Linked DNA regions of Homo sapiens. The protein of the gene in region 1 purifies or fractionates together with the protein of each later gene. This does not show direct contact. Each region holds a gene or a part of one and is shown on either strand. Other genes may lie near its edges.

Evidence for each region.
Region 2: the proteins of PENK (region 1) and CDC26 purify together in Homo sapiens (affinity purification with mass spectrometry; 3 studies listed by BioGRID and IntAct, with this or other methods). This does not show direct contact.

The regions. Positions count from the first base shown.
Region 1 is NC_000008.11:56,439,782-56,443,641, reverse strand, and holds the end of PENK (proenkephalin-A preproprotein), read left to right. Parts: intron 1-1,704; coding exon 1,705-2,370; 3' UTR 2,371-2,685; downstream 2,686-3,860.
Region 2 is NC_000009.12:113,266,288-113,270,003, forward strand, and holds the end of CDC26 (anaphase-promoting complex subunit CDC26), read right to left. Parts: intron 1,153-3,716; coding exon 976-1,152; 3' UTR 705-975; downstream 1-704. UniProt on the Homo sapiens protein: Component of the anaphase promoting complex/cyclosome (APC/C), a cell cycle-regulated E3 ubiquitin ligase that controls progression through mitosis and the G1 phase of the cell cycle.

The DNA.
Region 1 (3,860 bases):
ATATTTACTGAGCTTCTACCATGAGAAAGACACTTATGATTGGTACTGTGGTGGATGCAGAGATGAGCAGGCGTGCTATGGCTGATGTCCAGATAGAATTTCCCATCTAATGTGATCTTGACCATACCACACAAAGTGTGGTAAATACCACAAAACATGCATACATGGTTATAGGAGCCATCAGTTAACATCGCTACCTTAGTACGAGTGCATTATTCTGATATTTGTTACTATTTGGTTTTGAAGGAATCTCACATCACATACATTTAAAAATCTTTTGGTATTAGTATGCAAAACATTCAACATTAATTTTTAACAACAAGATCACTTAGATACAACTTTAGAATGGAAATATTATTGCTCCTTAAATATCTTAAGCTTCTAATGGTGTTTTTATTTGTTCATCATATGTCAGGAATAAAATAAGACATTTTAATTATTAATGGATCATCTTTAGATTCTTACGTAGTTATATATTTAATCTTCTCAGACACGAAGCTTAAATACTCATTAAGAGCTTACTAAATACGTGCCTTCAAGATTTTGTTGCACTAATAAAATGCTTTCTTTCATTGTGAAAATAATATATGTGTATTTAACATCACTTAATATACCAGTATATTTTTAATAATACCAAGAAAGACTTCAGAGGGCTGTAAAAAACTCCTGAAATGCTAAGAAATATCATGCATGTTTTGTAAATGTTCACATATTAGTACTCTCTTTATCATACCCAAGTGATGTGTTAAATAGAAAAAAACTTAAGATCATTCGAATGTATAGACTTACAATGATTTTATATTTAATATTTATATAAGAAAAAGGAAAGAATGTATGCTGATGATTCCTATTTTACCAAACACCATGATTTCCATTGAAAAATACTTTTTCTGTACAACAGTGACTAAATGTGAAGAAAATAAACATGAATAATTTGTGCACTTGCATTTGTATAATTTTATATCTGATCTCATCATTATAGACATTTTGTTCAAAATAATAAAGTCTGTTGTATCCAGCAAAGAAAAAAGGAAAAAAACAAAAGATCTGTACTTACAACAAATTAACAAATTAATAAGAATGCAAATAATTCATCAGATTTAAATTGAGTTTTTAGGATGTGTTTATAAACTTTTTTTAAATTGTTGTTTTTCTTTGAAGATTGAAAGTATTTGCAGGAATACTCGATACCATTTTAGGTAAAATATTAACACAAGAAAGCAAATGACCCTTAGGTTATTAATATTGATTTTATCTCTAAGACAAGAAGATAAAAGGAATTTTGAGGAAATATCCCTGATTAGGTAAATAAAAATTTCTCCTTTTTGGTTAGAAAAATCTCAAACAAAATTATATCAGAAGTGGAAAATTATCCAGTGAAATTAGATTGTGAAAGCAGTCAATCTAAGTTAAAACTGCATGGAAAATTTTTTTTTAAATTCTTTAAAATTTCTATGGGTTTAAAATCCAAAGGCAGATTCCTAACTGGATTCAGTGAACCCCTCCACTTTCACCTTTCCAAATTTTATTTGTTTCATTTGCATGCTCAGCCTTATGAAAAGTCGTGATAAGAAATTGGAGATGACCTTATTATAATAAGGAAGTTATGATGTCAAAGCAAGCATATTTTGGTCCACAAAAGTTCATTTGCTTAATGAAATCACAGAAGCTTCTTTTTATCATTACATCAAATTGTTTTCCCAGGCTTGCGTAATGGAATGTGAAGGTAAACTGCCTTCTCTGAAAATTTGGGAAACCTGCAAGGAGCTCCTGCAGCTGTCCAAACCAGAGCTTCCTCAAGATGGCACCAGCACCCTCAGAGAAAATAGCAAACCGGAAGAAAGCCATTTGCTAGCCAAAAGGTATGGGGGCTTCATGAAAAGGTATGGAGGCTTCATGAAGAAAATGGATGAGCTTTATCCCATGGAGCCAGAAGAAGAGGCCAATGGAAGTGAGATCCTCGCCAAGCGGTATGGGGGCTTCATGAAGAAGGATGCAGAGGAGGACGACTCGCTGGCCAATTCCTCAGACCTGCTAAAAGAGCTTCTGGAAACAGGGGACAACCGAGAGCGTAGCCACCACCAGGATGGCAGTGATAATGAGGAAGAAGTGAGCAAGAGATATGGGGGCTTCATGAGAGGCTTAAAGAGAAGCCCCCAACTGGAAGATGAAGCCAAAGAGCTGCAGAAGCGATATGGGGGCTTCATGAGAAGAGTAGGTCGCCCAGAGTGGTGGATGGACTACCAGAAACGGTATGGAGGTTTCCTGAAGCGCTTTGCCGAGGCTCTGCCCTCCGACGAAGAAGGCGAAAGTTACTCCAAAGAAGTTCCTGAAATGGAAAAAAGATACGGAGGATTTATGAGATTTTAATATCTTTTCCCACTAGTGGCCCCAGGCCCCAGCAAGCCTCCCTCCATCCTCCAGTGGGAAACTGTTGATGGTGTTTTATTGTCATGTGTTGCTTGCCTTGTATAGTTGACTTCATTGTCTGGATAACTATACAACCTGAAAACTGTCATTTCAGGTTCTGTGCTCTTTTTGGAGTCTTTAAGCTCAGTATTAGTCTATTGCAGCTATCTCGTTTTCATGCTAAAATAGTTTTTGTTATCTTGTCTCTTATTTTTGACAAACATCAATAAATGCTTACTTGTATATAGAGATAATAAACCTATTACCCCAAGTGCATAATATCCTTGTAAGTCTCTTTTTCTCCAAGGCTCTCATTTACCTTTGGGTTTCCGCATCAATCCTAGACTCAGGGACAGTAGAACCATCTGCTTTTGACATAATTTTGACATCATAATCATTGTCTTTCTTCTCCTTCAGCCAAGGCTCAAAAACATTTTTTATTTAATTCCTCACAGCATGAAATCTTAGATTAGTAAACACGTGGGAGCAAAATAAAATGTATTTTCACTCTCATTTCTGGAAATCAGATACATGAAGAAAAACCAAAGCCTAATAAAGGAGCCAGCTATGCCCCCATTAAACACACACACACACACACACACACACATACTTGCATTTACATCAGATGTGTATGTCTCTTTTCTTCAGTAAAGTATTTTAGAAGTTAGTAAGAAATTAAAGATAATTTAGTCCAATTTTACAAATGAAGAAAGGGAAGCCAAGAAAGGTTGTGTAGTTGGCCCAAAGTTGCCCAGCAGTTGAAGGACAAAAATAGGATTAAAACCCCAAACTTTTTGTGCCCAGTCAATATCCTTTTCACTGCGGTTCCTTATCTCCTATCCACGTCACTAGTAAGAATTGTAAGAACGTGGAACTACATCTTAGTCACCATTGTACACCTCTACACTATGACTGTAGCAGATTCTCCAATATCGGATGAATGGATATATGAATGATGAATAAATTAATTTGGTGACCAGATAATGAGGAAAGATATTGTGAGTGTTTTGTAAGGTAAATCCCCAAAACACAAGGTGCTTATGACTACTTCATATTAATGAGACAATGCTCAGATATAAGAAATGTAACTTTTCATTTTTCTTATTATTATTATTATACTTTAAGTTTTAGGGTACATGTGCACAGCATGCAGGTTTGTTACGTATGTAAACATGTGCCATTAACTCGTCATTCTGGTTTCTCTTCAGATCGTGCAAATCTTTCGCCTTTAACTTTTCATTTTTCTAACTGAAACAACATACGGCTTAACCCCTACTCACTAAATCATTTTTCCAGGACCCCCACCAACCCTTTCTCTTGTGTTTCTCAAAACATTGGAATTTAGCAACTCTGGAAAGTGGGGGACGAGTCTCTGGTCTGCAGTCTACCAAGGCTGCTGCCGAGATGCTCACTGTGCAAGCCTGTGTGCCCCATCTGATAAGGCAGCTGCA
Region 2 (3,716 bases), on another chromosome or scaffold:
ACTCAGACTTAAACTACCCCAAAAAGGCTAAAGTCCTGCTAAGAGTCTCCGTAGAACTGATGATTCAAGAGGCTCTTATGATCACAGCTGGTGATTCCCTGTGTTGAATTAGTGAAAACAGGCCAGGCACAGTAATCCCAGCACTTTGAGAGGACTGCTTAATGTCAGGAGCTCAAGCCCAGCTTGGGCAACACAGATGCCTGTCTCTACATAAAACAATAAAAATTTTTAAAAAAAATTTTTTTTTAATGCCCAGAACAATAGGGCATGATTCAAAATTATCCTCCGAGCTGCCTCTCTGGTTCTTTCTGGGAAAAACACTTAGGCAAGTTGAGAAAGGAAGGAAAGTTGGAATAATGGCAAAACTGTTAGAAGCATTCCTCTTTCCTCCATTGCCTGTCCTCCCAACATTATACCCAAACTAGTTACAAAGCCATTCTGTAAAGAGATCGGGTACCTACAATTTCTTCAGATTTACACAATATCCACTAGAATTTAATTTCTACAAGGGCAGGGATCTTTGTTGAGTGGCACATGGTAGACACTCAATAAATACTTATTGAATAGATGGGTTAAGTGAAAGTGGCAGGGATCAACTAGAGTGTCCTGTGCTTAGGGTCTTTTAATAAAGATGGAAAGAATGATGTTAATCTTGTAGCAATTATCTTTTAAAGTCTGGGAATTAACAGTACTGTTATACTTCATTAAGGATGCCTCACATTTTTCCAAAAATATATTTATTTTTAAAAACAGAAAATCAGATCAGTTTTATAGAGTCAAATTTTCAAGAGACAAACCAGAGTTTGGATTCCAGCTTAGAGTGCAAGTGAAGCATCAGTAATCTCATGCAGAAGATTTGTCTCTGCAGGAGGTACATTCTGCTTGACTGCAAGCACTCAATTCTCTAAATCTGGTTTGTACTTCTGCCATCATTTTATTCCATTCCAGCGCTCTGGCATGCAAGATAATCCATCTCTAAAATTCAAGACTTCCAAATTGAGATGAACGATTATTGGGCTTGGGTTGGGGTTTATAACCAATCCGATCATTGATCATTTGTTCCCGGCTCTTGGGATCACTGCTAAGCCCAATGGCTCCTTCTCCATCACTGCCTCCTACAACTTCCACATCTTCCTTCTGTTTCTTACGGGTCTGAAAGTATAAAAGTTTTAGGATTAAGGCAACATTCTTTCAATTAGCAAATGTTTATTTAGAACACCTACCATGTACTAGGCATGGGCTAAATGATAGAGTTAGGGTGTAAAGAACAATAAACTGAAATCCTAGGTTTGGAGTACTTAGGGGCACAATGAGGATATGGTGTTAAAAGTTGTAACCCCTGATCACTTGAGGTCAGGAGTTCGAGACTAGCCTGGCAAACATGGTGAAACCCTATCTCTACTAAAAATACAAAAATTTGGCGGGGCACGGTGGCTCACATCTGTAATCCCAGCCCTTTGGGAGGCTGAGGCGAGCGGATCACGAGGTCAGGAGATCGAGACCACCCTAGCCAACATGGTGAAACTCCATCTCTACTAAAAATACAAAAATTAGCTGGGCATGGTGGCGCATGCCTGTAATCCCAGCTACTTGGGAGGCTGAGGCAGGAGAATCGCTTGAACCAGGAAGTCGGAGGTTGCAGAGAGCTGAGATGGTGCCACTGCACTCCAGCCTGGCGACAGAGCGAGACTCTGTCTTAAAAAAAACAAAAGATGTAACCCCTACCCTCCAGGATGTCACAGTCTAATAGGGAAACAGGCAAACAGACGATTATAGGGTGATCAGGGCTATGACCTATGACAGAGAGAAGTCTACACTGCCAAAGAGACAAGAGGTAAGGAGTTGGGGTGTGGTGGTACAACAGGAAGCTACAATTGGAAAGCTGTAAGAGCAGACAAGTGAGAGCAAAGGGCATTTCAACAAATTTATTATTCTAGAGAATAGAAAAATAAATTGGGTAAAGAAATAACCACCAAAAATCTATAGCCTGACTGATCCCATGAGATTAAAAGTAACTCAAGAAGGTTTTATGCTATCTTATCAAAAGGTCTGGGTTTTGTGGCTTCATTTTGTTTTCAGATAAAAGGTTTGGCTCCTAAGTCACATGTGACTGCAGAATCCAGAAAGTATGTCTTAGTTTGATCATTTTCAAAAACAGACACTTATCCCATAACAGCCACTACCTGACTGTAAGGATAACAGATGATAACTTTCTCTAAGAGAGTGAAATGATGTTTTATCCAAAGTTACTTAATAGAAGAATGGCTCAGCTACTCAAATCACTGGAATTACCACCATTCTTCACCACTTGCTGCTGAACTGTGGGCATTTAAATGCCAAGCATCAGGCTGACCGCAGTGGCTCATGCCTGTAAATCCCAGTGCTTTGGGAGGCCAAGGCGGAGGATTGCTTGAGCCCAGGAGTGTGACACTAGCCTGGGCAACATAGTGACACTCCATCTGTCTCCACAATTTTTTTTTTTTCTTTAGACTGAGTCTCTGTCTGTTGCCAGGCTGGAGTGTAGTGGCGCCATCTTGGCTCACTGCAACCTCCGCCTCCTGGGTTCAAGCGATTCTCCTGCCTCAGCCTCTCAAGTAGTTGGGACTACAGGCGCATGCCAGCACACCTGGCTAATTTTTGCACTTTTAGTAGAGACAGGGTTTCAACATGTTAGCTAGGATGGTCTCAATCTCTTGACCTCGTGATCCGCCTGCCTCGGCCTCTCAAGGTGCTGGGGTTTACAGGCATGAGCCACCGCACCCGGCCCACAAAAAAATTTAAAAATTAGCCAGGCATGGTGGCGCATGCCTGTATTCCCAGTTATTCAGGGGGCCTGATGTGGTAGGATCACCTGAGCCTGGCAGGTCAAGGCTGCAGTGAGCTGTGATCATGCCACTGTACTCCAGCCAGGGCGACAGAGCAAGACCCTGTCTCAACAATAAAAATAAAAAAAAAAAATAAATGCCAACACTCACAAAGTATTACAGGGAATAAAATAAGGTATTGCCTTTTATGTGGCAAATGACCTTCCTGATTACTAGTAAGTGATGTTAGAAAGTTCTACCTAAATACCTTTGTGAAAACAAGTTCGAAAAGGCAAACAACTCTATCATTCTGAGAATATCCAAATGGAATGAAATCACTTAAAAGGCTTCCCACTTTGAGCAACTGCTGTTTCAGAAGCTAGAGTCACAGTAGTATAATCAAACTCATGTTGGTAATAAATGAAACAGGCCAGTTTTCTACTGGTTTCACTTTAGGGCATGACTGTCCCTGCTTCCTAAGTTACTCTAAAACAAGGTAAAACCCACTAGATAACTGTCTTTAGTGGAAAGACTAACTCAATAGTGAGCTGACTGTAGAGTCAAAGTTCAGCATGCTAGCATTTTATGAGATTCGTTACAACTGAAGTTTAAGCCATACTTTAAAGCTCATGCTTAATAATATATGAGTTTTTAGAAAGCAAAAATTACGATACTTAGAGAACACTAAAGTCTCTTGGGATGAAGCAGGGGGAAAGAAATCTAAGTTATTAGTCTTAATATGAAGCATATACAATACATAATAAAGCTGTTGGTGAATATATGCAAAACGTACTGTCCTCTGCCATATAGTACAAGATACCTACTAGGACAGCAAATGAAAATAGACTTGCATTGAGCCCTCCTTTGGACCTGGTATTGCAGGGAACAGATGCAGAGAGAAATATACTAATC